Linked DNA regions of Homo sapiens. The protein of the gene in region 4 interacts with the protein of the main gene of each other region in a pairwise test. Each region holds a gene or a part of one and is shown on either strand. Other genes may lie near its edges. The genes, in order: JAML, GSG1L, CXADR, MAL, AMHR2, NKAIN4 and SYNDIG1.

Region 1 (4,402 bases), on a different chromosome or scaffold from region 4:
TTTGCACTTGATTCCTCTATGCTATCTGAGTGGGTCACAGTGGGTGACATCATGATGGAGTATGGGGAATTACATCTGGTCCCAGGTTCACCTCTGAGAGCTTGCCATACATTTAAATGTCATCCATTGAGTGATTCACAGGAGAAAATAGGATGAGAATTGACATTTTGAGGTTGTGAATTTGAATCACGAGAGACAAAATGTTAGGGGCCAGGTCACTTCATTCATGTTTGTGTCTACACACCCATTAACTTTTCTTAAAAGCTTTAAAAAAGCAATCTACATGGCTTTTTTTAATGCCAATATTCATTTAACAAGTTATTTTTAAAGAATCTGCTATATGAAGAATACTTAAAGCCCCAGTCCTGATGGGAAACTTACAACCAAGATGGAGGAGATACATGTAAAATAATAAAGACGTATATAATACATCAGGCAATAGTAAGAGCCTACGGGGAACAATAAAGCAGGACTTTGTGGTTTTTGTTATGTGGGTGCTTGGGGAGCCCTCACTGAGATGACATTTGAGGAGAGGGAGTGAACCCTGCATATGTGTAGGGGGAAGAGTGTTCTTGCAGTCATAGACAGTAGCAAGTGCAAAGGCCTTGCAGCCAGTATGCAAGGAGCAGCCAAGAGGTCCATGTGGCTGGAGCGCAGTGACCCAAGTAGGTGAGGGAAGAGCAAGTAGAAGTTGAAGTCAGAGGTAAAGGGAGATGGGCTGGGTCATGCAGGGCCTTGCATTTTAGTAGAAATGGGAGTGGGGGCCATGAAGGGTTTTGAGCACAGGAGTAACATGATTTAACTTACATTTTTAAAGGCTCATCTGCTGAAAATAGATTGTCATAGAGAATAAGCAGGGAGACAAGTAAGAAAGCTGTTGCAGGAATCTAGGTGAGAGATGAGCTGGACCAGAATGGTATCAGTGGAGGAGGTGAGGACTGGCTGGATTGGGGATATATTTTGAAGGTAGAGGTGATAGGATTTGCTGAGGGATTCAATGTGATTTGTTCCAGAAAGACAGAAATTAAGGATGACTCCAGGATTTTTAGCCTGAGTATCTGGAGGAAAGCATTGCCATGTACCAAAATGGGATGGACTGGAAAGAACTGGTTTGGGGGAAAGATGAAGAGTTCAGTTTTAGACATGTTTCAGGTTCCTATTGGAAATCCAACTAGAAATGTCATCAAGAATAAAAGTATACTTTTGCTTTTTTTTTATTGGAAAGGTGCACAAAATGAAAGTCCTCCTTTTCTTATCCCTCCATTCAGATGGAAAAACTGTTCATGGTTTTGTGATGTCCTTCACAAGTACACACGCATGCACATGTGTGTGTACATGACTTTGTGTTATTTAATGCTTTCTGATAATACCCTTACTGCCTTCACCTAGCAGGGCCTTGGAGTCCTGAGATCTTCCCTCCCCCATTTTCTCTGCTCCCCGCTCCACTCCAGTCCTCACAATATCATACTTTTTGTCTTTCACTTCTAGGAGGAGATTGTATTTCGTTACTACCACAAACTCAGGATGTCTGTGGAGTACTCCCAGAGCTGGGGCCACTTCCAGAATCGTGTGAACCTGGTGGGGGACATTTTCCGCAATGACGGTTCCATCATGCTTCAAGGAGTGAGGGAGTCAGATGGAGGAAACTACACCTGCAGTATCCACCTAGGGAACCTGGTGTTCAAGAAAACCATTGTGCTGCATGTCAGCCCGGAAGAGCCTCGAAGTATCTAACATTTGGCTGGGGAGCATTGAGGGACCTCCTGGCTGGTGCATGGCGCCAGGACTAGAGTGAGGCCGGAGAGGTTCCTAGGATGCAAAATTGAAGGAGGCATCCCTCTCAGGTGCTGACTCTGGCCTTGCACAACCCTGAGAATGATGCCTCCTTAGAGGTGGCTCCTCAGGTGCCTGGCTTGCCTCACCCTAGTTCTGGCCCTGCTGCTAGGCCAAGGGGAGGGGAGCTAATTTAGTGAATACCAATCCTCTGCCAGACCCCACTCATTGCCAGGGTCATCTACTGATGTAAAGATACAGAAGCTCAGGGAAGGATCGGAGTTGATGTCCAAAGTCAGCATACTTGGTTTCAAGGGAGGTGCTGTATGTGTTAGAGTGGAGCGGGAAATGATCCTAAGCTAGTGAGAGACAGCCAGGAACAGAGAGGAACATGCAGGCACCAGAACCAAAAATGGAGGGTTTTCTGATCAGAGGTTCTGGATTCTGGCAAACAGTGTGCATCAAGGCCAGTGCTGTGTAGGAGAGGAAAGACTTGATTGTGTTGACAGAGAGAGGTTGATAAGTGAGGGGTTAAAGTTAAACCATAACCCAGTTAGCAATCAGGATGTGGCCTGTGGACTTTGCCTGTCGCTAGGGCCTTCAGGAGTTGGCTGTGGTTGGCTGGGGGTGGGGAAGATGGGGTGAGGATGGAACATACCTCATACCTCAGGCCAGAGACCTAAGTCTGTGGAGGCACCTTGTCTCCAGCTGGAGAGGGGAGCACGGCAGGTCTGTGTGCTTCCTTCTCAGAAGTCCAATTCACAGAGAAAATCGAGCCATTATGGGGGCTCATGCAGCTTCTCCACCCACAAACATATCTATGTCTCCCCCATTCTTATCTCTGCCCTGCCATCCTGAGGCAGAGGAAGGTCCCTTCTGCTCTGGGCTTATCTGGCCCCCTGTGCCCAGGTGGTATCCTTCTCAGGAACCTTACAACATGGCTCTTTGAGCTCACTTTCTGTTGGTTTCTACCATTCAATGGATACGTTTGCTCAATTCTACTACTTAATTACTCCAGCTCCATTCTATGTCTTTTTTTCTTCAGCTCCATTCTGTGTCTTTCTTTTTCTTAAGATTGTTTTCCTGAGATACAATTCACATACCATACAATTTGCCCATTTAAAGCGTTCAGCTCAATGGTTTTAGTACATTCAGAGTTGAACAACCACCACCACAATCACGTGTTTCTTTCTCAACATAGCCAAATAGCTTGCTAAAGGTCTGTGTTTGGTATCTTACTGTCTCATCTCCCATTAACTCCTCAGTGCACTGCATTCTGGCTTATTCTACCTCTACTCCAGCTTAGATCACCAATGGCACTGCAATTATCCATCCTCAGCCTTCTCTCCTTCAGTAGCATTTATATGCACTCTATGTTGGACACAGTTCCACACACACCCATGGATATACTTAGTCAACTCTACACAAGTTTTCCACAAATCCTTCATATGCAACATGTCTAACCTACCCCTGCACACCCCTCCTCAGCCCATCTCCCCAACCTCAGTTGTCTAACTAGATGCCTGGGGGTGTGCTTGATTCTTTCCCTTTCCTAGACCCCTAATCTAACAGGTCAGGTCAACAAGTCCTTGACTCCTACTACAGACTCTTGAAGTTGTCTTCCTTCCAGTCTGTCACTGCCGCCTTAGTTCTGGCTGTCTTCATCTCTGTCTTGAACTGTAGGCCTCTAACCAGTCTCTGCTTTCTCTCTCAGCCACTGCTCCTCATTCTTCACGCGGCTCTTGGTGCCATCTTTCTAAATCACATTAAGAACTTTCTCTTCCACTGCTAATAATCTTTCAATGTTGTTTTCATTGCCTGCAGAAAAATGCCAGATTCTTGGTTGAGATAGTCAAGGTCCTTCCTGACTTGGACCCTGTCATCTCTCCAGCGAAATTCTCCAGCACACCCACAAATGCCACTTTTGTGCCAGACCCGTTGAACTCTTTCTAGTTTCTAAAATCATCATCCTGTCAGGCCTCCAGATCTCATGCAGAACATCCCCTCTGTCCTTCTCCATATTGTCTTCCCAACAAACTGGATGTTTCCTGTAAGTCTTAGGTTAAACTTTAGAACTTTTGCTGGCAAATTCTCACTTGCTGCATATAGAATTGGACACCCTTTTTTCTGTGCCCCTCTGTTCCCCATACAGACTTCTGTTGTAGCGCCTACAGCAGCCTGTGGTTTTCTGTTGACGTGTTTGTCTTCTTCCTTGGAAGCAGGGACCACACATCATCATTCATCTCTGAATCCCCTGTACCTAGTGCTGTCTGGCCCTGAGGAGGTGTTTGCTTTATGTATTTAGAAAGAACCATGCAGATGAGTAGAAGGTTCCATATGGGCAGAAGTACCTCCGGAGGCTTTACTTGGTATCGTCACTGTGGGGCTGAGTCTTGCGGCATGAGTTCTTTTGAAGACAACCACTTGCCCTAAGGAAGATCAGCAGCCTCTCAAATGCCTGTTATTTCTGGGTCCTTGTTAAGCCAAATTTTAGAATAGAATTGTTGATGTGAAAGGAAACTTTACTAGAGGTGAACTGCTAGCCTCTTCTCCCACCCACCTTAATCTACATTTTAGGGTAAACGAGGGGGTTAGACTTTGGTTCTCAATCTCATGGAGACAGTGTCCC
Region 2 (4,402 bases), on a different chromosome or scaffold from region 4:
GGAGTGTATCTTATTTGCCCTGCACAGAGGGAGGTCTCTAACAGAGGGATGGGGTGAGGGGGGCGGGGGCAGGGAGAGGGGAACCCCAGCTTTGTTTCCAGAAACATAATTGTATCATTTCATAAAGTCCTCACAACAAAGCCTCAAGGTAGGCATTAGCTCATTTTCCAGCCAGGAAAATTGAAGCTCGGAGAGGTGAAGCGAGTTACCTGGGGACTCACAGCTAGTAAACTGCGAAGTTAATTCCAACCCTGGTCTATTTCTTCAGGCGTTCCACAAGGGCTGAATGCATGAAGTCAGCCAGGCGCTCAAACAGTGTCTGCAACAGGAGGCACTGCATAACTTTCTACTATACTTAACAATAGAATTAATGTTTTTTTGGTTTGGTTTGGTTTTTCAAGACAGGTTCTTGTTCCGTAGCCCAGGTGGGAGAGCAGCGGCGCCATCATAGCTCGCTGAAGCCTTGATCCCCCGGACTCAAGTGATCCTCCCACCTCAGCCTCCCTGAGTAACTGGGACCACAGGCACATGCCACCACACCCAGCTAATCTTTTAATTTTTTTGTAGAGACAGGGTCTTGCTATGTTGCCCAGGCTAGTCTCGAGCTCCTAGACTTAAGTGATCTGCCTGCATCAGCCTCCCAAGTGCTAGGACTACAGGCGTGAGCCACCGAGCCTGGCCTAATATTGTTAATAATTAATACCGTAATTGATTGGGCCTCTGTGGTTCTAGGTGCAGGGACAGAGTGGTAACCAGGAAAAGCAGGCTCCCTGCTCTCGTGGAGTGTGCACCGAAATGGGCCAGACATAAACACGAAAATAAATAAACAAGTAATTTCAGAGAGTCCTAAGTGGTACAGAGAGAGGTGCAGGGGTCCCAGGAAGGAAGATCTGCCCTCCCAAAAAGCTCCGGGGGCTTCCGTCCCCCACACAGTGCCACATTCCCAAGTGAGGCGGGTCATTTGTTTGGCACAGCTGAATTCCCTCTGGGATCCAATCCAACAGGTCTGATTTTCTTCCACACATTGTTAAACCAGATCTGAGCATTAAGTATTCAAGAAAGCCCCAATCTGCAAATATTTACCTTTCATTCAGCAGCATCTGACCCTCCCCTTGGGAGGCCCGATTAAGACGAAGGAGGGGACGACAGGCAGGGTGACGCTGGGAGGGTTTAATTCCAGATGTTTCTCAGGGGTGGGGCAGGAATTGGGGGGTGCAGGCCCTCCAATCCAGCAAACCCAACACATGTGCATACTGGTCCTTCCACATGACCATGTGCACATGCATACGCACACGCACACAGACGCGCACACACACACATAATACGCCTTTCTTCGACAGCGCTGAACACCATTTCAAATCTGCCCAACTGCTCCTCAGCCATGCAGTCGGCTCTTGCAGAGGGTAATCCAACAGGACATGGGTGGTGGGGGTAGGGGTGGGAAAGGGACAGTTTAATTTCTTCCTGTCCATCAGCCCCCGCAGGGCACTACCTTGTCGCTGGTCTCCAGGAGGACAGCAGGAAAGACTCGGATGAAATGGGCTCCAGAAAGCCCTCTCCCACAGATAGGAAACGTGGGGGCGTGAGGGAGCCCATGAGCTCTGTCCCACAGAATGCATCATACCAGAAACCCACTCACGGTCTGTCTCTCACCTCACCTGCCCCTCCTGCGATGAACTCCTCAGCCATGGGACTCCCTTTACTCTCATTGTGTGCCCAGGTCCTAGCTCAATACCCAGCAGAGATAATTGATCAAGCCTGAGAGGCCACACAGCACAGGGAAGGACTATGTGGCCTGGGCTTAAATCCCAGCTCTGGCACTTACCAGCTGTGTGACCTGGGGCAAGTCGCCCTCCCTCTCTGTGCCTCGATTTGCCACCTGTAAAATGGAGGTGACAATAACACTTACACATAGAAAGGCATCGCAGAAATTAACTGAGTCACATCTGAGGTATTTAGAGGAGAGCCTTATACAGGGCCACAGATAATAACGAGATTATCAGCCATGCTTCGAAATACCCTCGCCATCTCCATCCTAAGCTGGTCATGACCAAGCTCATGCTTCACTCTGGGGTCTGGTGAGGGCATTAGGAGCAGAAGGGACAGGAACTCACACACAAAAAGCCCTCCATGTGCCAGGCACTTGGCGCGGCATGTCACATGGGTTTTCAAATTTGAGCCTCCCTGAGACACCAAGAGCTCTGGATTCTCCCATCCTGGGTCACAGGAAACAGGCTCAAAGGGGCTCAGCGCCTCACCCCAAATTACATAGCAGCAAAGAGATAGATTTGGAAAACTCACTCCAAACCCCTGCTCTTTCCACAGCACCCTCTGTCCCCCGTGGAGGAGAAGGAAACCTGGGCAGGTGGGGCCATGGATCGCCCTCCCTTGAGTTCCTGGCTGCGGCTCCAAGGATGCTGGCCACTGTAAGATGTCAGCCCTGCATCTGAGCCATCCTGCAAACCTATGCAGACATCTATGTGCTCTGAGCTCTTTGTAGGGAAAGCACAAAAAAAAAAAGAAAAAAGGAAAAGAAATAGAACAGCCTGGCTAAGCTGAAATGCTCTCCTCAGAGGGGAAGGGAAATAAAATTTGATGAACCTCTGCATAATGTTCAAGTTATGAATGTGTAAAGTGATATTCTGCACATATGCTGGGAAGAATTCATCTTGGGGCTGAGCTGTTAGGAGCCATTGGAACTGGGGCACCAGCAAACAGCAGCTTCTTGTTGATGGGGTACGGAGAGGTCTTGTCTTCTGCCTCAGCAAAATGAGGTGTGTTTTACCCACAGATGCCCAAGGAGGTGAATCTCCGTAGCAGGGGTGGCAACTGACCGCAGTGCTAATGGGGCAGCTTTGGACATCTGGCTGCTTATGTGTCTATTGCAAACACTTGCTGAGTGCCCACTTCGGGCCCTGTGCCATGCTGGGCATTGCCACCATCCACAGCCTGGGACGAGATGAGCCGCATGCCAGGTTAGCCGGATCTTCCTGGCCACTGCTGCCTGGCCCGAGATTGAACACCTGACCTACACCGAGCAATCACATCCTCTCTCCTGGGGCTTTGGCATGGAAGTGCTGGGGCACTGAATCAGCGAGATGATGGTGGAGATGGAAATAAAAGAGCATGAGGGAGCCAGGGCTGAGGCCTCCAAAGACAAGAGTCTAGTCAATCACCAGAAAACCCTGAATGAGCTCCTAGTAGGTGCCTGGCCCAATTCTAGGCTCCTGGTCCACAGTGGGAAACAAGACGGCATAGGTCTTCTATCCCAGAGCTCACAGTCTGCAAACTGGCAAACAAATAAAGAAAATCCTGGCAGGTTGTATCAGGTGCTATGAAAAAATAGAAATGGTGCCAGGCATACTGGCTCATGCCTGTAATCCCAGCATTTTGGGAGGCTGAGGTCAGAGGATTGCTTGCGGCTAGGAGTTTGAAGCCATCTGGGACAACCAATAGCAAGGCCCCCATCTTTACTAAAAATGAAAAAATTAGCCAGTCATGGTGGCACATGTTACTTGGGAGGCCAAGGAGGGAGGACCACTTAAGCCCAGGAGGTCGAGGCTGCAGTGAGCTGTGCTTGTGTCACTGTACTCAGTCTGGGTGACTGATATGGTTTAGCTGTGTCCACCCAAATCTCATCTTGAATTGGAGTTCCCATAATCCTCATCTGTCATTGGAGGGATCCAGTGGGAGGTAATTGAATCATGGGGACAGTACCCCTAATAATGTCCTCATGATAGGGAGTTCTCATGAGATCTAATGGCTTTATAAGGGGCTTTTCTCCACTTTGCTCGGCATTTCTCCTTGCTGCCGCCATGTGAAGAAGGACGTGTTTGCTTCCCCTTCTGCCATACTTCTAAGTTTCCTGAGGCCTCCCCAGCCCTTCTGAACTGTGAGTCAATTAAACCTCTTTCTTTGATAAATTACCCAGTCTCAGTTGTGTCTTTATTAGCAGCATGAGAACCGACTAATACAGCAACAGAGTGAGACCCTGTCTCCAAAACATAAAAAATAGCAATGGGTTAGAGTGTCTAGGATAAGGTTGTGGGGAGTGTGTGTTTAGACCCAGTGATTAGGAGAGGCCTCACGGAAGCATCCCGTGGCACAGTAAGTAGAAAGGTCCCAAGGTGGGGACGCACTTGGAGTGCCTGAGGGATGGAAAGGAGGCTGATGTGGCTGGGGAAAGACACAGTGGCAGGCTGAGAGAGGGGCCTGTTACAGTCAGGGTACCTGTGTGGGTCTCCTCACCCCATGCGCTGCCATGCTTCTCTTCTGACTGAAACCCTCCCAAGGGCCCCACAGACAGTCCAGCTCCTCATTGCTGCCCCACCCTGCAGCCTCCTGTCCCCTTCCTCGTCCTCGTCCTCTGCTGAGCCCTGAGGATGTGCAGTGATGCCTTCCT
Region 3 (3,681 bases), on a different chromosome or scaffold from region 4:
AGTCCCCTACGACAAAGAATTATCCAGCCCAAAATGTTAATAGTGCTGGTTGAGAAACCCTAGTATAAACACAATATTCCTCAACATGCTTCTTAAAGTAGCATCAACATCCCATTCTGGTTTTTCCTGAAATCAACATTTACAGTGAATGAAAATACTTTAAGCCATAACGAGATGTTACTTTGGTTCGAATATCTGTGCCTCCCTAAAATTCTCATGTTGATATACATTTTATTAGCCAGAAGCCCAAATCTCACCATTATGCTGAAATCTTAATACTCAACGTGATAGCACTCAGATGTGGGGCCCCTCTGGGAAGTGATCAAGTCAGGAGGACTCCACTCTCATGAATAGCATTAATGGCCTTATGAAAGAGGCTAGAGGAAGCTCCCTTTCCTCCTTTCTGTCATGTGAGAATACAGCAAGAGGCCCCATCTTTGAAACAGAAGGTAAGCTCTCACCAGACACCAAATCTGCCAGTGCCTTGATCTTTGACTTCCCATCCTCATATCTGTGTATATATACACACATTGGGCAATGTATCTGAAAAATGTTTGAGTTTATACTGTAAATTCTGAAATGATCACAGAACGTTGGAGGTTTCAACCCCAAATAGTATATACTGTTATATAAGCACACAGGAATGGGGAGATAATGGTCTGTATGCTTGACATGTTTTCAATGATGTATTAATATGATTGTCGCAATCTTTATTCTTTCTGTTTAGAGGATACACGGGGGGAAGGAAACCATGACACAGCAAGCAGGGAGGAATAAAATATTAAAGCTTTAGTGGACACTGTATAAAAGGCACAATAAAGCCACACCATGAGGCAGAGAACTGCTTTCTTGATTTTATTTCAAAAGTACACAAGGTCACAAAACTAGAGCAAGTTGTTTTTCTTAACAAATTTTGTTCTTACAAATTTCAAAATCTGCACCATTGGATATATAAGCCAGAAATCGTACATACAAAATCTGAAACTGACACTGTCAGTTCTATACTTTGCACACGTGAAGTGTCAGAATATTTTCCTCAGTAGTACAGGTGTATTTATCACTAAAATTCACAATTAGGGAAAAGAATAAGTGAATCAATGAATTGTGGTTCTCTTAAAACTTGTGTCATTAAATAAGTTAGCAGAAAACACAAAGTTCTGTTTTGATGGAGCTTTTAGTCTCGATGACCAAAACCAAACCCAACTGATATGTACTATATTCTTAAATTATAAAATAAGATAAATTATAAAAGTTAACCATAATGAATAAGAGGCTGGGGTTATCTGCTATAAGATAAATGATCAGCCTTCCCTAAAGATAAATAAACTGAACCACAATTCACAAATGTGTTTATTATTCTTCCCTGCTTCTATAACATTTATAAAAGGAATTTGTGCTCAGTTGTGGTCTATTTTAGTGTTAAAATAGGTAAATGAGTAAGAAATCCTATTGCAGAACATGATGCCTTTATTGCTGGAATATCCAAAGGCATTCAAAATATTAAAACTTGCCCAGAACATTTACACTACTAAACACAGGAATGTTATAAAGATATATGTACATATATATATATAATATATAATGTCACAAGCCACTAAGAAGTTAAAATTGTGCCAACATTTTCTACAAACTACTCTTTATGTGACACATCAAAGCATTAACCACATAAAATATGAACTTTTTCTGTTCACACTGGAATAAGGCATCTGAAAGCCCTAAACACTGCTGAAGTGAAAATTAGAAGAAAAAACTCAACATTCACATAACATCAAATGTACATGCTGCACGCACACAAAAGACACTGAGAATATTTTTAAGAAGCCACACATCACAGAATTTGATAGTCAACTTCATGCAATGAGTTCCTTTTATATTTCATCAAAAGGTTTACTTGCCCCTTTACTTGTTCCAAATTTCCAAGATTAACTCTTAAATTTGAAAAAGTATCTTTTTAATAAAAATCAGGTATCTCTTTATATCCATGATCTATATGGATAGTGATTTGGATTTTTTCAATCAAACTCTCCCTAAGATACACTCAGGCTGTGTTTCCATTTTAGAAAGTCCATGGCAGATAGCTCAAATTAAAAAGAAGCAATTTGTCCAGAATAATTGGTTACTGTCATGAATAGTAGACATTTTTGGGGGTGGGGGAGTGAGAGGCTCTCTAACAAGGGAATCATATTAGTTAAGATTACCAGTAAGAAAAAAAAATAGCTGTAAACTACTCCATATTCAAAGTACAGAACTGGCTGGATGCTGCGGCTCACACCTGTAATCCCAGCAATTTGGGAGGCCAAGGCAGGAGGATCTCCTGAGCCCAGCAGTTTGAGACCAGCCTGAGCAATAGTGAAACCCTATCTCTTAAAAAAAAAAAAAAAAAGTACAGAACTATATATTCTACAGTAACATTTCTCTTCAAATTATCCTCTGTAACCTAAAGAGATGGATGGTATCAAGTCTCTCAGTTATAAAGTAGAATAAAATGGCTTTGCTGTTAAGATGCAGTACTGGGCCGGGTGCAGTGGTTCACGCCTGTAATCCCAGCACTTTGGGAGGCCGAGGCAGGCAGATCACGAGGTCAGGAGATCGAGACCATCCTGGCTAACACGGTGAAACCCTGTCTCTACTAAAATTACAAAAACTTAGCCGAGCGTGGTGATGGGAGCCTGTAGTCCCAGCTGCTCGGGAGGCTGAGGCAGGAGAATGGCGTGAACCTGGGAGGCGGAGCTTGCAGTGAGCCGAGATCCCGCCACTGCACTCCAGCCTGGGTGACAGACCGAGACTCCGTCTTAAAAAAAAAAAAAAAAAAAAAGATGCAGTACTGTCCTTGACTGATCTAACGGAAATGCTTTAGTAATTTTTTGTTCAACTACTTGATTACCAGTAGTAATTCGGGAGCAAATATTTGATCTCTGGTTCAACTAAATTATCAGTGAGAACTACTTGAAAACGTATTGGTACTATTTGGCTGACAGAATTTTACAGTGAGACATAAGCCTTTAAAACAATGTCCTCTAAAATATGAAGTATATGGGAAGAGAAGTCTTGTTCCTCATATGTTATTAAAAAAAAAAAGGAAGGAAAGTCTTATACGTGTCCACTTTCTATGATAACTTCTACTTAGATCAATAGGATAATTTTCATTATATGAAAGTCAGGAATAGGAAGAACCAAAACTTTATTATTAATGTTCTGTTTATTTACTTATTTTTTATAATATTTTATAAATAAACTTTATTCATATAAAACAGGCCAAACATCTGACTTTCAAAAATGGCTACTGTTATAAAATCAGAAACATAGAGTGTTGGGAATATTGAAATTTCTAAACCTTTATGAATAACACAATTGCTTAAGTTATATCCACAAAGAACAGAAAAGAGGCAAGCTTGAAAATGTGAGGATAGAAAGGTATCACAGTGATGTGTTTTTAGAAACAGTACCTTCACCTCTAAGCACCTTTCAGGTAGGTGATAGCTAGCTCATAGGCACCAGAAATTCATAATAGAAATTAAATTACCAAAAGGCACAGATGAAAATGTTAACACGAGTATAAAAGTAATTTTACATAAGGTTAAAACCTGTTTTTAAAATGCTTCCAAATATGTAAAACTATACACAAATCCATTACACATTCAGCTTAAGTTTACCATTAAAAAGTGTACACACAATACTCTA
Region 4 (4,402 bases):
ATTCTCTGGGTGGTGACCCTCTCCCTGCATCAACTGAAAAGGCAGATTATTGGGAGTCTGACCCCTGGGACTGCTACCAAAGAGAACCCTGGGAGCGGGGCTGGGACCTGACTTGGTTTACCTACACCAGTCACTCTCCCCTCCTGGCCTCTTCATTAGCAGGCTTCTTCCTCCCAGAGGGACCCCTCATGCCATCATCACCCCCAGCTAGCCTTAGACAGTGTTCCTTATCTAATCTGAAGGCAAGAGCAGGACTCAGCGGGTTTGGATCAGTTTGTGAAGAAGGGGATAGAGATTTGGGATTAAAAGATCGAAGAGCTGTTGCTGGGCACGGTGGCTCACGCCTGTAATCCCAGCACTTGGGGAGGCTGAGGTGAGCGGATCACGAGGTCAGGAGATTGAGACTATCCTGGCTAACACGGTGAAACCCCGTCTCTACTAAAAATACAAAAAATTAGCCGGGTGTGGTGGTGGGCGCCTGTAGTCCCAGCTACTCAGGAGGCTGAGGCAGGAGAATGGCGTGAGCCCAGGAGGCAGAGGTTGCAGTGAGCCGAGATCATGCCACTGCACTCCAGCCTGGGCGACAGAGCAAGACTCTGTCTCAAAAAAAAAAAAAAAAAAAATCTAAGAGCTGAGTGGAGGGCCATAGTTTATATTAACAAGGCAAGTTGGACTGGGAAGAGCCCCCTGTTCAGGCTTGCAATCTCACCCCCCTTGAGCCCCAGGGAAGCCTCTCCCATAGCACACGCTGCCAGCAGGACAAAGTGACTGCTGACTTAACACCCACCTCCCTCATGAGCTAGAGGATGGTCACTAGTTCCTGAATGCACAAAAACTCCTCTCAGATCCACAAATCTAGGGGCTTTCTGATAGGCATGTCTTCATTTGAATGGAAAATTCTGCCTACCACATCTACACCTGCTGGCCTTACCCAGCAGGATAAACAGAAACCAAGAGGTTCTGTGAAAATACTGGGTAAGCCACCTGTAAAAGGCAAAATCCGTGGAAATGCTGGACCAGACAGGAGTGGCTTAAATGCAAGAAAAACAAAAGGGATTTATGGGAGTCACCAGGTAGGTTAGTAATGTGAACAAACCAACAAAACAGGTGTACACCTGCCAGAGGCGACAGAAGGCTGCCCGCCCAGGGTCTGGGAGGGTCCAAGGGAGATGGAACTCCCAGAGTCTCTTGGGGACTGGCAGCCTTTGTCAGTTTCACCCTCTGTCCGCCTTTGAGGTCAAGGACTCATCTTATGATTCATCAGTGTTAGGTAGGTGAGAGAGGAGACCCGAGCCCCTTCCCTACCGATGCTTGCTGAGAACAAATGTTTCAGAGTTCTTGATCTGTGCCAGGGATGTGGGCAGACTTAGGGTGTAGGCACGAGACAGACAATAAGCAAAGGTCTGCAGGATGTGCTCTGAGTGCCAGGAAAGGGTGCTAGAAGGGTGGGCTTCCCGGTGGAGGGGATGGGTTAGCTCGGGCCTAAAGGGTCACCTCCAACAAAGAAGCATTCCCACTGCTGCCCCCAACCTGACCACAGATGGAGATGAAGGAGGTCTGTGGCTGGTTTTAGAAATAGTCCTGAGACCCATAAGCTCGGCGGTTCCTTTCCTGCCAGGCCCCTCAATCCAACTATGCCCTCCTGCCAAGCAGCTGGGGGCCAGGATGGAGGCTGGGGGAGGTGAGGGCACAGGTTTTTGCCAGAGGCTGCCCCCTCCCTGAACTGATGCCCTTGCATACAGCCGACACACTGACACTGATGACAAATCGCTTTTGAAAGCTTTAATCTGAGCCTGCTGATAATTCATTCCTACGCCTGCGGGCAGATGTAGCTATGTGTCACACTCAGAATCCACAAAGCTCTGCCTGCCCATCTTGGCACCAGGCTGGCAGGGTGATGCAGAGAGGCTTAGAAAGCAGCCTGCTCCCTGGGCAGAAGGCAGGCTGGGGCTGCCACACTGTCCTCCACCCCTTGGCTGCTCCATCAAGCTCTTAGCTGAGGACACACTGACCTCTGCCCTCAGTTGTTCCTTCTTGGTGAGAGGAGAGCCACTGGGAAGGCCCCAGGAAGGTGGTGTCTGTGCAGGACTCGGTGACTCCAGGGAAAAGTCAAGTGTGCCCTCCACAGCCTGGCCCAATCCCAATCCTCATGCAGCACCTGCCTGAGAATGGAACAGAGGGCACCTATGGCAAAGGTGATGGGGGCGGGCCTTGCGGACCCTGCCATCGGCACAGGTCGGCCAGTTGGTTTCAGAGCAGATGCTTAAATTATTAGTCAACTAATAATAACAGCACTTGATAGCTATGGGGCAGTAGCTATGTGAGGCAGGTGCTGCTATGTCCAAATTTTACTGATGCAGAAACTGAGGCACAGTTACCTGCCCACGTTCCCACAGCTGCCGGGTGCTCCTTTGATGAGCTGGCTGAGGCCCAGATCCAGGCCCCCATGGGTGTGACAGTTACCTCTTGTGTCTAGGGTCAGCTTTGGAAATGGCCATGAGATTTTTGTTTTGATGACAGGTTCTCACTCTGTCACCCACACTGGAGGGCAGTGATGCGATCACAGCTCACTACAGCCTTGACCTCCAGGCTCAAGCAATCCTCCCATCCCAGCCTCCTGAGTAGCTGGGACTATGGGTGCAAGCCATCATAGTTGGCTAATTGTTTACATTTTTTGTAGAAATGGGGTCTTGCTATGTTGCCCAGGCTGATCTCAAACTCCTGACCTCAAGTGATCCTCTCACCTTGACCTCCCAGAGTGCCAGGATTACAGGCGCGTTAACATGGAGCCTCCTCCATGTTAACTAAGTGGCGAATAACCACTTAGTCTTTAGGCCACTCCCAGCCGGCTTCTCCCTCCCTGGCCCGCCACTGAAACAATGAGTCTCAATATCCTCTGTTTCTTCAGAGGAAAACAATAGCAAGGTTTGTGTTTAAGACACATACAGCACAAGATGAAATGCCAAAGGATCCCGCTCCCTCTTCGGCAGATGCAGGCCTGTAGTTCAGTCTGAAGAAGAGGGAGGGGCTGCCATGCAGACCCCACCCGCCCCACTCCACTGACAGGTCAGGGAACGTCATCTTCTGTCCTTCCCCGTGGCCCTATTCCTGGAGTGCCCACCTCCCGGGCCCCCCGTGGGCCTCCCTCCAAGTTGGTTCTGGGACCTTCACTTTCTGTCTCCTCCCCCTGCCCTTCCAGCCCCTCCCCTCCCAGCCCACTGCATTCTCACAGGGACTGGAGGCTGTGGCCAGGAACTGCAGGTCAGTGAGGCTGGCTGTGCGACCCTGCACCTTCTCTTCCCGCTGCGGAGGTGCTGTGGCTGGTGACAGGCTTTCCTTTGATTTCCTACATATGTTTTGCAGGACCCAGGGCCCGGGTACATTAAAATGATTCACCCAATCCTGGCATAGAACACTAGCTGTGAATGAGGTAGCAGCGGCAGAGAGCCTGGGGAGAAGTGCTGCAGAGAAGCAGAGTGTGGCACGTTCATGACCCCAAGAAGGGAAATGGCTACACTGCTCATGCCCAGCTAGGAGCTCACTGGGTATCAAACCTTTCACCAGGGTGTCAAAGGCAATTTGGAGCCTTCCAAATTGATGAGAGACCACGAGGGACCTGCTCCATGCTCCATGCCCTTGGGAACAATCTGAAAGCTGTGAGAAGGAGCTGGCCACACACCCCAGAACGTTCCTGCTTCAAGGACAAGGGGCACAGTCCCCCACTGTCCTCACACCCATCAACACCAGGAGGGTACACCCTCTGGGGTGTCCTATCAGCACCTGTCCCTGAGGCCTGCTGGTCCAAAGCACCATGTCCGGCACTGACACTGGAGGGGCCAGGAGGAAGCCCTGGAGTGGCTTAAGTCAGCCCCCAGCCCCTTCTAGTTCAAGTCTGGCTGGCTCTGTCCTGTGTCAAGGCAGGTCCCAGGTGGTCCAGTCCCTACTCCCAGCCCCTTCTCTGGAGAATGTGTCTGGGCCCAGGACAAAGCCAAGCCACTGCTAAGGCTGTGCAGAGCTAGTCTGTGCTGGCAGCACAATATGCTCTGCCCCTCGCCTGCTGGTGTGGCGAGTATAGGTGCAAAATTCAGCCCTTGTCCCTGGCCGACCTGAGTGTGAGCGCTGCTGGCAGCAGCATCGTGGGGCTTCCTACTCACTTCTGAAAGCACTGGGACAGAAAGGGTGCCTTTGCACCAGTTCTGGCATTGCCCCATCCCTGTGAGGTGGGGGAGTGACTTATGAAAAGCTAAAAGGCAATCTTTTAAAATATAGCTCAGGTGTGATGACACATGTCTGACAATCCTGTGGAGATGAGCCCCATCATCACACTTAGCAGTTTCCAGGGAGCAGCTCAAAGTTACTGAGTCCTCACCAAAGCCAGCCTCTGGTCTTGAAAAACCAGAAA
Region 5 (3,561 bases), on a different chromosome or scaffold from region 4:
CCAGGACAGCGTACAGGAACCCAACAATGTGGTGTGCAGGTCTTTAAGCACTGTTAGGGCAGTGATTTTGTTGTCTTTACCCTTCTTTCCCCAGTGCCCACCATGAGATCCCACCTTTAAAAATAAATGTTGAGGCTGGGTGTGGTGTCTCATACTTGTAATCCCAGCACTTTGGGAGTCCTAGGCAGGTGGATCGCTTGAGCCCAGGAGTTCAAGACCAGCCTGGGCAACATGGAAAAACCTTGTCTCTATGAAAAAATACAAAAATTAGCCAGGTGTGGTGGCACACATCTGTAGTCCCAGCTACTTGGGAGGCTGAGCTGGGAGGATCGCTTGAGCCCAGGAGGTCAAGGATGCTGTGAGCTATGATCACAGCCTGAGTAACAGAACAAGAGCTTATCTCAAAAATAAAAATAAAAATAATCAACAATTTACTTTGGGAGGCTGAAGCGGACAGATCACAAGGTCAGGAGATCAAGACCATCCTGGCTAACATGGTGAAACCCCATCTCTACTAAAAATACAAAAAAATTAGCTGGGCGTGGTGGCGGGCGCCTGTAGTCCCAGCTACTTAGGAGGCTGAGGCAGGAGAATGGCATGAACCTAGGAGGCGGAGCTTGCAGTGAGCCAAGATCGTGCCACTGCACTCTAGCCTGGGCGACAGAGCAAGACCCCCGTCTCTAAATAAATAAATAAATAAAATTTAAAAAATAATAAACAATTTAAAATGCTGGGTGCAGTGGTTCATGCCTGTAATCCCAGAACTTTGGGACACTGAGGAAGGAGGACTGCTTGAGCTCAGGAGTTTGAGACCAGCCTGGGCAACATACCAAGACTTCACCTGTACAAAAAATAAAAAATCAGGTGGGGCGCGGTGGCTCATGCCTGTAATCCCAGCACTTTGGGAGGCCGAGGTGGGCAGATCACAAGGTCAGGAGATGGAGACCATCCTGGCTAACAGGGTGAAACCCCGTCTCTACTAAAAATAAAAAAAATTAGCCGGGTGTGGTGGTGGGCGCCTGTAGTCCCAGCTGCTCGGGAGGCTGAGGCAGGAGAATGGCGTGAACCCGGGAGGCGGAGCTTGCACCGAGCCGAGACTGTGCCACTGCACTCCAGCCTGGGTGACAGAGTGAGACTCTGTCTCAAAAAAAAAAAAAATAGCTGGGTATCGTGGTCCATGCCTGTGGTCCCTCCTACTCAGGAGGCTGAGGCAGGAGGATCACAAGAGCCCAGGGAGGACAAGGCTGCAGTGAGCCGTGATCGTGTCATTGCACTCCAGACTGGACAGAGACTCTGTCTCCAAAAAAAGAAACCAGATAAATAAATAAAAATAAATGTTAGTGGAAAAGAAGAGAGACAAGAGGGTCCCTGGATTACAGGAATAGAGGAAGGACCAAGGATATGCATCAGGAAAGCTGACTTTATTCTCTTTCCTGTGCACACCTACCCCAAGTCACTGGTCAGAACTGATGTGGACTGGATGCCCGCAGAAGAATCCAAGGATTCGGCAGGTGGGAAATGCAGTGATGAGGCAGACAAGACAGCTATACAATCGCCATATTTATGTTGGCATGTACATTGATGACACATAAACTGCATATTTACACAGGAGAAAGGGTACAGGCAGGCTGAGGATTCCTGGAACAAGGGCCTTGCTGAACGCTGAAGTGGCAGGCACTCCGCTGAGGCCTACAGGGGAGGATGGTAGGGGCAGGAATTGAAGTACAGTCTTCTGGGCAGAGAGGTGGGCAGCCACGTGGACAGCTCTCTGGAAAGGGGTGGCTCTCTTGAGGATGGGCCAAGGCAGCCAGGCGCTGCTGTACACACTCAGCTGTCAGCCGTGCTTCTGGGTCTGCATCCCAACAGTCTTCTAGGAGCTCCCTCAGCCCATCAGGGTCCTGGGGGGAATGACAGGGAGGAAGGGTTGACCCTAGGATCTTGAGTGGGCCCCAGGGTTAAAAGCCATCTTCAGTGTCCATCACTCTCCTGCTTTCAACATCCACTTCTGATCTTTCCTGGAGCCTCCCTCCTCTCCCTCTTGCTGAATTCCAGCCCTCTGAGTCTTGCTCCCTATGAAACAGGCTCTCTGGGGGCCTTCTGTATAGCCCACTGTTTCCTCTGAGGAGCTAATGTAGGTTGACAGCTTAATATGCTAATGGGAAATTACTCTCTTTCCTCTCAGAGAGCCAGAGTCTTCTGCAAGTAATGCCCAGTTTCTGTCAGCCAACCTAAGACTTGTGCCGTGGAAATTTCAGATCAGGTACAGAAGGGACATTTTGTTAAAAAAGTATTTGTGCAAAGCCCTGAACTTTCACTGTGACGCCACTGCTTTCACCTTTTATACCTAGAACTGCCTTTTATTGGGTCACAGCAGAAACATCATCAATGTATGACAGAATGGGGACTTATTGAATTGATTTTTGGGCTTTACTGTATTAGGAGAGCAGATGGGGCAGAGCTCAGGGCAAGAGCAAAGCCAAGGAGGGCTTCCTGGAGAAGGGGACTGAGGAACAGGGCTAACTGATGGCAGAGAGGAGAGACAGGCTGGGCAAGGTTGAGCAGGAGGAAGGTGTGTGTCTCAGGTAGATGGAATCGACTGTGTGAGACTTAGGGTGGAAGAGGATGAACTGACGGGGAGAGGAGGCTTGCCCAGTTCCAGCTGAGCATGAACCAAGGAGTGATGGGAGATAAGTGGAGATAGGAGTAGACAGACACTCTGGCAGAGACGTCCTTGAAGCCCATGCCCAGCCCCCACTCTCCAGGTTCCCAGACCAACAGCCTAGGCCTCTTACTGTGGCAAAGCAGCGCCAGGTGGATGGGATGTAGGGACGCCTCCTCTCCTGCACTGCCAAGGCCCATAGCTCATCAGAGGTAGGGGTATTGCCCAGTTCTGCCTCATAGGCCAGTTGGAAGGGTGGTGGACTGCTGTCTGGAGGAAGGTAGAGGGGCTGGGTATCAGTTAGTCCTAGGGGTGCCTACCATGTAGAAAGGGCAAGACAGGGAAGAGCAGAGCTTTCTCAGGCCAGGTCAGGTTGGGGTGAACCTAGAATGGGCGGGGGGGAGCCCAGGAGAGGGGACTGTACCACCCATCCTTACCAGGCCTCAAATCTGGGCAGCGGCTCAGTATCTCCCACAGGAGCAGAGCCAAAGAGTAAATATCAGCTCGTCGGAGGGCCATGCCCCAATCCTGTAGGTCCAGAGTCTTGTCCAAGAGCTCTGGTGCCATGTACCTCTGGGTGCCAGCCTGGAGAGCAAGGCACGAAGGGCCAAGAATCATCTCTGTGGCAATCCTCATTGCAGCAATGGTCCATGCAATATCCCCCCAACTACAGACTCAGCAATGTCCCAAATGCTATAGGTATTGCTACAACTGTTGACACACAATGGCTGCATTGCCATCAGCAGCACCAACATCATCCTGGGCCTCACCAGTTATCCAGAGAACTCACTTCCATGATGGCAGCTGGGCCTTGTGGTTGAGTAGGGGTCCAGGCAGGGGGCTGAGTGAGGCCAGGGAGCACCAAGGCAAGGCCCAGGTCTCCAATGGCACACGATCCATCT
Region 6 (4,402 bases), on a different chromosome or scaffold from region 4:
AGACTCAGAGCTGCCACCTCTGTAGCCGTCTCCCGCCCCACTGCCTGCAGAGGCCCCATACTCACAGCTGTCCTCTTCCTCCGTAAACACGCTGACCACCTGGCAGCCACAGACAAAGCCCAGAAGCTGAAAGACACCACAGGCAGGGGCGTGAGTGCGGCCAGGCGAGCCTGTGGGGTGTCATTGAGGCGATGTGGGCCGAAGCACTGGAGCGCCCCTGACCACCAAGGCCCTGCCTCTCCTGGACCTCAGGTTCCTCCTCTGTGACTTGGAGTGGGAGAGCTGACCCGTGGGTATCCTCAGCTCTCAAGCTCCGGACGCACCCCTGCCTTCCACCCCACCCCACTCAACTGGGTAGGGGGCAGGTGGGTGAGGATAATGGATATTGGGTGGGGAAGATGAGCAGGTCAGCCTGAGTGGCTGCAGGGAGCGGGGTGAGGACACAGAAGCCCAGGCTGGATGAACCCCAGGCCAGCACAGTCCCAGCCCTGCGTCCCCTCGGGCCTCTTGCCTTTGGCCCCAGCCCACTCCAGCCAGCAGCCACCAGGGGTTCCTCCTCCTCTGTGGAGCAAGCCATCTGGGATTCTGGTTTTGAGCCCGGCAAAGTGCAGGAGAGACAGGCTGAGGACTCGGGGTCCAGCGGGCAACTCCGGGCAGAGTTGGGGGCTGGCTGCTGCCTTTGGGGCAGGGGTCAGGCAGGGAGAGGGGAGGGACTGGGAGTCCAGGGCAGAGGGCAGGCCGCTGCAAAGCCCCACACACCTCGCAGACACCTGCATCCAGGGCCACTGAGGGAAAAAGGGCTCTGGCAAAGGGGGGGCAGTGCTGCCGCAGCCAGAAACACCAACAGCATGAGCGAGAGGGCCTGGCCAGGGGCACTCCAGGCCACAGACACCGAGGGAGGCGGCAGTGGGTCTGTGACTGGAGGGACCCCGGAACGAGGCAGGAAACCTTCCTGGTTGCACCTCAGGCCAACCACTCAGCAGCCGGGTGACCCCAAAAATTCACTTCATCTTCTGGTCTTGGTTTCTTCCTCCATAGACTTGGCCCAACAGCCCCCCGTGAAGGCCACCGTGCCCAGGAGAGGAGACAGGACACGCAGGCCAGGCCCCAGGGCTGGACATGCTTGGGCTCCGTCCCCCCGACCCCCGACCCCATCTGGTACAGGCAAGTTGGTGGTTGCTTTCCTGGAAATCCAGCTCCTTTCTAGGGGTCAGTCAGGGGCCAGGAGACCTCTCTTACCACCAAGCAGGCAGACCTATCTCCTTGATATTGAGACAAGCTCAAGAAGCTGTCCCAAATGGCCATTTCTGGTTCCATGCCACGGCCAGGGTGGGAGCAGCGGTGAGGGTGGGCAACCTCCACGGCTCGTCCCCCTCCTCACCCCAAAGGAGCCCAAGACGCCCCCATCCCGGAGCTGGCCGTGGCGCCGAACAGGCAGCCGAGCTTGGGGAGCCATTGGAAGATGCCCCTTCCAGCCGGTGCCCTCCTGCCTGGGGACCTGCAGGCCACCTCTGTCCCACACCCCCATGCTCCCCGCCCTGCACACCACCGCCTCCTGCCCATCCTCCTGGCTCCAGCCCCAGGTCCACCCCAAAGCTCTCCCCTCTCCCTGCTGCATGGAGGCCTGGGATCTGCAGGCCCCGCACCCCAACCCCCAGAGCCTGGCCTTGTCAGACGACTCTCTTGCCACCACCATTTCCATCCCCAGCACAGCTGGGCAGAGGCCAACCAAGCCGCCAGCCTCTCCCAGACCCTCCAAAGCAAACAGCAGGGGCGAGATCCTAGCGAGGACTAGCTGGCTGGAATTTAGAAACTACATCCTATCAAAGAAATTCCCATCCCTGGGAGTCAGGATAAAAGCCAACAGGAGGCCCCATCTCCCCAACCATGCAGAGTGCCCACTCCTCCAGCCTCGGCTCCCATAGCACGCCAGCCCCCTCCGAGAGACTCTTCATTCATTCCCCTCAAGCTTCCTTTTTTTTTTTTTGAGACAGAGTCTCGCTCTGTCACCCAGGCTGGAGTGCAGTGGCGTGATCTCTGCTCACTGCAAGCTCTGCCTCCCGGGTTCATGCCATTCTCCTGCTTCAGCCTCCCGAGGAGCTGGGACTACAGGCGCCCGCCACCACGCCCGGCTAATTGTTTTGTATTTTTAGTAGAGACAGGGTTTCACCGTGTTAGCCAGGATGGTCTCAGTCTCCTGACCTCGTGATCCGCCTGCCTCGGCCTCCCAAAGTGCTGGGATTACAGGTGTGAGCCACCGCACCCAGCCTAGCTTCTTTTCTGTTGCCTCCTCACAAAGCCTAATCTCAGGAGCTTTGATGTGCACACTTGGGAAATTGGCTCTTTCTCCTCCAGTGGCAGGCACCTGGGTTCCACACATTTTGGGGGCAATTGGGGCCCCCTCTGTGCCTTGCTGACTGGCTTTGGTGGGAGAAACAGGCCCCGACTGGAGCTGGCAGGGTGCGTCTGTGGCCCCTTGCTATGGGGCAGCACCTTCCTGGCCTGATTTCCTGCAGGACCAGAGCAGAGCCCAGGAAGGAGCCCCGGGAGCTCACGAGGCCACCCGCACCGTCACGTGTGCTCAGGCCACGGGCTCCTTAGATTTGGAATTCAGCTCCCACCGCCAGCCGCCGGCCATGGAGCCTCGCTCCTGGAAGCCCCAGGTCCACCTGGTGTGTTGCGTCGACACCACCGTGCGCACCAGGAAAAGCCAGGGAGCCTCGAGATCGGTCAGAAGTTCCTCCAGCGACGGCACCAGCCGTGCTGCAGTCACATTGGCCCTGCCCCCGGAGCTCTTGAGGTGAAACGCTGACCGAGCACCCTCCACACACCCGCCTCAGCTTTTGCCTCTTTCTGAGCACTTCGAGGAAGGCACTGACACCATCTGCATTTTACAGAGGCGGGAGCTGAGGCACACGGAGGTTGTTAGGCTCACAGAGGCGGCACAGCGGGGAAGTGGCCGTGTGGCCATACCAGGAGCAGCATCGTAGCCCCTGTTCTCTACCAACCCGTGCAGGGCCGGAGAGGACGGCAGAGTCCCGTTCCCGCACAAGCAACAGCTGCTCCTCAGCGCCACCCGGGGCCACAGAATCCCTGTCCGGTCAGACCTGGGTCACGTGGCGCCAGCCTTGCCAGATGCATACGCCAGGGTTCCCGACAAGGCTGAGGGGCTTCTTGCCAGCCCAGCCTCAGGCTCTGTCCACTTCCTGTGACCGGCATGGGCTCGGGGCAGCCGAGGGAACAGGCGGGACACGCATGGATGGGTTTGTCAGGAAGATGCATGCCCCTCCTCCTTGGGGCCGTCAAAGCCAGAGGCGGGGTGTCTCGGCCTGATCCGATTCCTTCCCACTCCCCACAGCAAACACCACGCTCAACTTGAGAAAGCGCCTGGGTTGGCCCCGCCTGGGGGAGGTGGTTTGCAGAGGAGGCACTGAGGTGCCAGCCACATGGGACCCACCCGTGATACCTTAACCTCTCCAGCAAGGGTGGGGGATGAGGAAGGCAGAGACACGCCTGAGGCCAGGTCAGCTGGCCCCGCCTCAGGGAGATGAGCCCCCAGCTCCATGTCCCCTCCCCCATCAACCCATCCCCACCCGGGGGCCCCCTTCCCCACGCTCACCGCGATCAGGATCTGCAGGCAACTGTGTAGGGCCTCCACATAGCTGGGCTCCAGGGCACAGCCAGCACCTGACACCAGGGCCTGGCCATGGGGGGCCCCGAGGCCCACTGCTGGCACCTCCTCATGCAGACAGCCTGGCCAGCGCTCACGCCACCAGGAGCGATGCCGGGAGAGGCTGAAGGTCAGTAGCTCGCTGTCCTAGGGGAGAGGTGCAGGAGCAGGGCCGGTTAGCACCAGGAGGTGGGCGGCCTCACCCACTGCAGCCTGCGGGGACGCCACCACACCGAGGCAAGGGGAGGTCCTGTCCTCTCACCTCCCCTGTCCTCCCACTGCACCCCGCCCCCAGGGCTCCAGCCATGGTGGGGAAAGGAATACCAAGGCCCTCCCAGCCGCTCCTGCGCCTGCCCTCGACCCACACACCTCCTCCTCCAGGAAGGCCTCCCTGCCCAGACCCCAGAACTCGCTCTCAGGGGCACCGGGCCCCTTCCTCGTGTCGCTGGCCAAAGCTGCCATGTGACGTGTGTCTGCCTCGGGACAGTCTTCCCGGCTGCAGCCCCAGGTGTGGTTCCAGGAAGCGGGGGCCCGTCTGCCTGGCTGGGCACCTGCCCCAGTGCCCACCTGTGCTACACTGGCCAGAGCAGAGAGCCCCTGGGGGAGACCAAAATCCATCCACCCTGGCTTTAGGACCACCCTCTGAGCTGTAAGCAAAGTGCCTGAAACAGCCTCGGTCAGGGTGGGCTCAGCAATGGCCCCCACCCTGTTTCCCCTGAACAGCCTCGGTCA
Region 7 (4,402 bases), on a different chromosome or scaffold from region 4:
CTTGAGTGACAAGTTTTCACACCCAAATCCCAAAATTGTTCCCTCCACCTTTGCAGAATTTGCAGAGCATCTTATTCAGAGGAGAAAGAACAGCCTGTACTTGACTTATACTTCTACTCTGCTACAGAACATTAAATTCAGGAGAAATAATAAATACCTTTAGTATATATCATTACCCAAGATAGCTTGGTTCTCTCCCATAATTAAATATGATCCAGTTTTAATGGAGTCAGAGAGAGAAGGACAGACTTATCCCTGGGAGCTGCAAGCAGGGCTGCTATTTAACTGAAAACAAGAGGCAAGGATATCAGACTTCTATAGTTCTTCCCTATGTGGGTATTTGTAATGTGAAAAGCAAGACTATGATTTCCTCTAACACTTGGGCAGTATTTGGTGGAATCTGTCACTAAGTGACATAATCACTGACCACTGACCCAGAAGTGGGCATTGATGGTGGGGGCACCGAATCCTGGCTCTACCCTTGGAAGCATGACCTGGGAACAGCTACATGACTCTCGCAGCCTAATACCTCATCTGCATCTGCCCCAAGAAGTGTGTGATGTCAACTATGTGCGAGGTGCTTGGGGGCTTTTTATTGCTCCCCTAACTGTCCCCCCATTCTCCTTCCCACTGTATTTCACAACATCTATTTTTCTCTCTTTTGGGTCATTTTCATTATGAACAAGTATGCTATCATTTCTCCCACTTAAAAGCAAAAACAAAAAACAAAAGAACACTCTTGACATGACCTCATTAAATAGCATCCCATTTCTCACTCTCCATTTACAGCAAAACTCTTCAAAAAAAAAAAGATAACTAGATGTACTATGTTCAGCTACTCTCTTTGCACTTCCATATGTATATTTAAAGACAAGGTCCCATTCTGTCACTCAGGCCTGGGTGCAGTGGTGGGATCATAGATCACAGCAGCCTTGAACTCCTGGGCTCAAGTGATCTTCCTGCCTCAGCCTCATGACTAGCTGTGACCACAGGCATGAGCCACCACGCTCAGCTAATTTTTTTTTTTAAAATTTTTGTATACATGGGGTCTGTTGCACAGGCTGGCTTCAAGCAGTTCTTCTCCCTAGGCCTCCCAAATACGTGCATTTTCTAAATGTTTTAATTGAAGTATAGTATTCTTACAGAAAAGTGCACACACACACACACACACACACACACACGAAGGTGTAAATAAAGCTCAATGAGTTTCCACAAGCATACAGCCAGTACCCAGGTCAGGAAAGAGAATGTCCCCAGCACCCACAAGTCCCTCCGCGCCCCTCTGCTGTGCCTGCTGATCCAAGTCCCAGCAGTGCAGCTCTGCATCGCTGGATGGTTCCCTTCCTCTTGCTCTGGAGTCCGCTCCTCGGTGCTGTCCCTCCCTGCATGCCTGAAGCTGCTCATCAGCGGTCAATGCTCCCACGGGCCCCTCATCACCGCGCCGGTGCTTGATCCCCAGCTCAGGCCTTACACTCCTACCCTCGGCCCAGACGTCTCCCTGGAGCCCCCATGGTTCAGTGCCTCCACGCAGAGGCCGACAGCTCCTGGAGTTGAGAGGCCCCGCTGCAGGTGCTGCCTATCCGGCTGCAGGAAACCCCTGGTCCAGGGCATCCCTCCCTTCCCTCTTCCTTTCACACTGCAACCTAAGCCCAGGGGTCATTCACCCAGAAGACACCCCGCAGCTCCCCACTGCTTATGAAATTCCCAGCCACTCCTGCAGCACAGGACTCCACGGTTCTGCGTTTGACCACTGCCGTCGTCGCCCTGCGCCTCCCCCTCCGCCCTGTTCTCTGAAGGCTCCCGGGAGCATGTGGCCACAGGGGCTTCTCCTCCGCTCAAACCCCCGAGGCTTCTTATCCCAAAGTGGAAGCCCCGCTCGGTCACAGCCTAAAGAGTCTCGGGGTCTGCCCCTGTTGGCCCCGCCTTGTTAGTTACCCCTACCCCCATTCCCCACTCCACACCCGCGGCCCCCAGCCCCGCCGCGCCGGCCCCACCTGCCCCACGTGCTCCCCCCAGGGCCTCGGCACTGCAGGCCTCTCTGTCTGGAAGCTCCTCCCCAAGGGCTCCCCCTGGCTCAACTGGCGGCTTTATCAGAAGACACCATCCTCTCCGCGAGCCCCGCCACGGCCACCCTGTTAAAAACGTTTCTCCCAGTTCCACGCTCCCCATGTCCATCCGCAGCTAATAGCCAGTGAGTAAAACGGAGAAAAGTAAAGCTGACATTGCAAGGAAGAGAGGCAGGCGACGAGCACGTTAGCTCTGACAAGCGGGATTTGGTTTGCTCTGTTCACTGCTGCATGCCTGGCACTTACTGAACACGTGGGAGGTGTTCACTAATCAGTGGGTAAATGAATGGATTCCAAGGGGCTTTGCTATTAGCTAGGTTGCACTCTTCTAGATTTTCAGTACCATAAAAAGATTCTCTTTTTTCCCCTAGTTTGCCCAATTCCCTTTGCTGGTACTATTCATAAAATTCATAATCTGCTTCCTAATACCCTTTTCTCATTTAATTATTGTTATAATGTTGCAGTTAGTAAAGGAAAGAAACATTTTATGAAATGAAATTAGATCAAGACATAATAAATGCTTGGATGCAAAGACATCTGCCAGCACAGTCAACACAGGAACCCTCGGGCCTGCCCGGCGCAGGTCCAGGCCCAATGCCCACCTTGGGGGCAGGGATCTGGCTTTGGTCCCCGGCTGCCCCCATCACATGGGATGGAGTGAAGTGCCATGAAGACCAATGCCACACCATGCTCAGACAGGCTTTCCTCCCCTGCAAGCCTTTCCAAGCAGGGTGGGGGGATGGTGAATTTAGAAGCAAGGACTGTGGTTCTATTTTCATTTGCAAACAGATAAAAGTCAAAGCTACATTGCAGAAAATATGGCTTTAAGGGTTAGAAATATTAATATTTCCCTCATGTGCCCATACTTGCTACCTCTGTGATTTCTGTTACTTATTAAATCCCTTGAAACTTCAGTTTTGTTAATCTGTAAAATGGAGATAATAATTTTCCACCTTCTGGACTCACTGCAAAGATTAAATAAGATAAAGTGTGTGCATTAACTAGCTGACAGCAGCCACTCAGCCAATTATGGGATTCATGTCTATCCTCAGTATCATTCACAAATGTCAGTTCCTAGATGAAGCCACACCACCCTAATCGCACACACCCACATCCTCCTCTGTATGAACTGGTTTACAAAGCGTGCTTGCAATGGGGGCTGGATGGAACATTGTTGGGCAAAATGAAGTTGTAGACAACATGCTGCCCTCATCTGCCCACCCACCCCCACCCCACAGCTCAGGGACAAGCCAGATGCCTCCCCCAGAGAAGGCAGGTGCTTCCGAACCTGCACATCCTGCTAGCTCCAGCCTACTGCTCACCAATGTTGGCTTTAGGCACATCTCTCAATCTCACTGAACCCTGATTTCAGCACCCATGTCATGGAGTTCCTATGAGATAATGCATGTAAGACAGCAATATTCACAACCGAGCAACATCAGAACCCAGGGCATCCCTCCCTTCCCTCTTCCTTTCACACCACAACCAAAGCCCAGGGGTCATTTCTTCCAAAAGACATCCCGCAGCTTCCCACTTCTTATTAGATTCCCAGCCGAGACTGCAGCACAGGTCACCACGGCCCCTCCCGGGTGATGGCAGCAGCATCCATGAGGAGCTGGAGGCCTCCTCAAAATGCAGATTCCTGGGCTTTGCCCCAGAGACTCTGACTGAGCAGGTGTGTGGTGGACCAGACAGTGTGCATTTCTAGCAAGTGCCTAGGGGGTCCAGGACCACATCCTGGAAGCAAGGGTGCATGGCTCCAGCGCTGAACCTGGCGCACAGTAGGTGGTCAGCCAATGTTACCCACCTCACTAACACTTTGATTACTACTGTTATGCTACTTCATGAACATATTTTTAGAATTAGCAAAATCTGCTGGGAAAGGTGTGTCTGTGTCTTTCCAGGTGTTCCTTGGCCTCTGGACCCCCAGCACCTGGAGAACTCAGGTTTCCAGCAGGGCACGACCAGCAGCAGCTGCTCTGCAGGTGCCTCCTGGGAACTTTCACTGGCCTTCATCTCTAACCCTCAGCTAACCGCACACCCTGGAAATCATTTTAACATCACTGTATGGGTCAGGAAACAGAGGCATGGGAGAGCTGCCTGCTAAATGGGACCAGGCTACAACAGGACAAAACAACATACTGGAGGTGCATAATTCTAGAGATGGCATCCCTCATTTTCTCCACTGCCCAATTTAATCAGACCACCATAAGATGTTGTTTTGTTTTTCTGTAATGGCTTGGCATGTTCCTTTGACTTCACTGAACAGTTATTTTGACAATGAGCAGACACAGCCTGACTGTCAGTGAGTACACTGTGATATGATCTGAGATAAA

Evidence for each region.
Region 1: the proteins of MAL (region 4) and JAML interact in binary tests that used the Homo sapiens proteins (3 or more experiments, as listed by UniProt).
Region 2: the proteins of MAL (region 4) and GSG1L interact in binary tests that used the Homo sapiens proteins (3 or more experiments, as listed by UniProt).
Region 3: the proteins of MAL (region 4) and CXADR interact in binary tests that used the Homo sapiens proteins (3 or more experiments, as listed by UniProt).
Region 5: the proteins of MAL (region 4) and AMHR2 interact in binary tests that used the Homo sapiens proteins (3 or more experiments, as listed by UniProt).
Region 6: the proteins of MAL (region 4) and NKAIN4 interact in binary tests that used the Homo sapiens proteins (3 or more experiments, as listed by UniProt).
Region 7: the proteins of MAL (region 4) and SYNDIG1 interact in binary tests that used the Homo sapiens proteins (3 or more experiments, as listed by UniProt).

Annotation. Positions count from the first base shown.
Region 1 is NC_000011.10:118,200,752-118,205,153, reverse strand, and holds part of JAML (junctional adhesion molecule-like isoform 1 precursor), read left to right. Parts: intron 1-1,488; coding exon 1,489-1,726; intron 1,727-4,402. UniProt on the Homo sapiens protein: Transmembrane protein of the plasma membrane of leukocytes that control their migration and activation through interaction with CXADR, a plasma membrane receptor found on adjacent epithelial and endothelial cells.
Region 2 is NC_000016.10:27,822,037-27,826,438, forward strand, and holds part of GSG1L (germ cell-specific gene 1-like protein), read right to left. Parts: intron 1,880-4,402; coding exon of another isoform or gene 1,826-1,879; intron 1-1,825. UniProt on the Homo sapiens protein: As a component of the inner core of AMPAR complex, modifies AMPA receptor (AMPAR) gating.
Region 3 is NC_000021.9:17,567,260-17,570,940, reverse strand, and holds the end of CXADR (coxsackievirus and adenovirus receptor isoform 1 precursor), read right to left. Parts: 3' UTR 841-3,681; downstream 1-840. UniProt on the Homo sapiens protein: Component of the epithelial apical junction complex that may function as a homophilic cell adhesion molecule and is essential for tight junction integrity.
Region 4 is NC_000002.12:95,031,889-95,036,290, reverse strand, and holds part of MAL (myelin and lymphocyte protein), read right to left. Parts: intron 1-4,402. UniProt on the Homo sapiens protein: May be involved in vesicular trafficking from the Golgi apparatus to the cell membrane. Plays a role in the maintenance of the myelin sheath, and in axon-glia and glia-glia interactions.
Region 5 is NC_000012.12:53,429,514-53,433,074, reverse strand, and holds the end of AMHR2 (anti-Muellerian hormone type-2 receptor isoform 1 precursor), read right to left. Parts: coding exon 3,450-3,561; coding exon of another isoform or gene 3,430-3,449; intron 3,245-3,429; coding exon 3,097-3,244; intron 2,930-3,096; coding exon 2,793-2,929; intron 1,899-2,792; coding exon 1,602-1,898; 3' UTR 1,403-1,601; downstream 1-1,402. UniProt on the Homo sapiens protein: On ligand binding, forms a receptor complex consisting of two type II and two type I transmembrane serine/threonine kinases.
Region 6 is NC_000020.11:63,243,959-63,248,360, forward strand, and holds part of NKAIN4 (sodium/potassium-transporting ATPase subunit beta-1-interacting protein 4), read right to left. Parts: exon of another isoform or gene 3,818-4,402; coding exon 3,620-3,817; exon of another isoform or gene 2,898-3,619; intron 2,801-2,897; exon of another isoform or gene 1,926-2,800; coding exon of another isoform or gene 849-1,925; exon of another isoform or gene 127-848; coding exon 66-126; exon of another isoform or gene 1-65. Other genes in the region: uncharacterized protein LOC124904950, read left to right, coding at 849-1,925.
Region 7 is NC_000020.11:24,587,859-24,592,260, reverse strand, and holds part of SYNDIG1 (synapse differentiation-inducing gene protein 1), read right to left. Parts: intron 1-4,402. UniProt on the Homo sapiens protein: May regulate AMPA receptor content at nascent synapses, and have a role in postsynaptic development and maturation.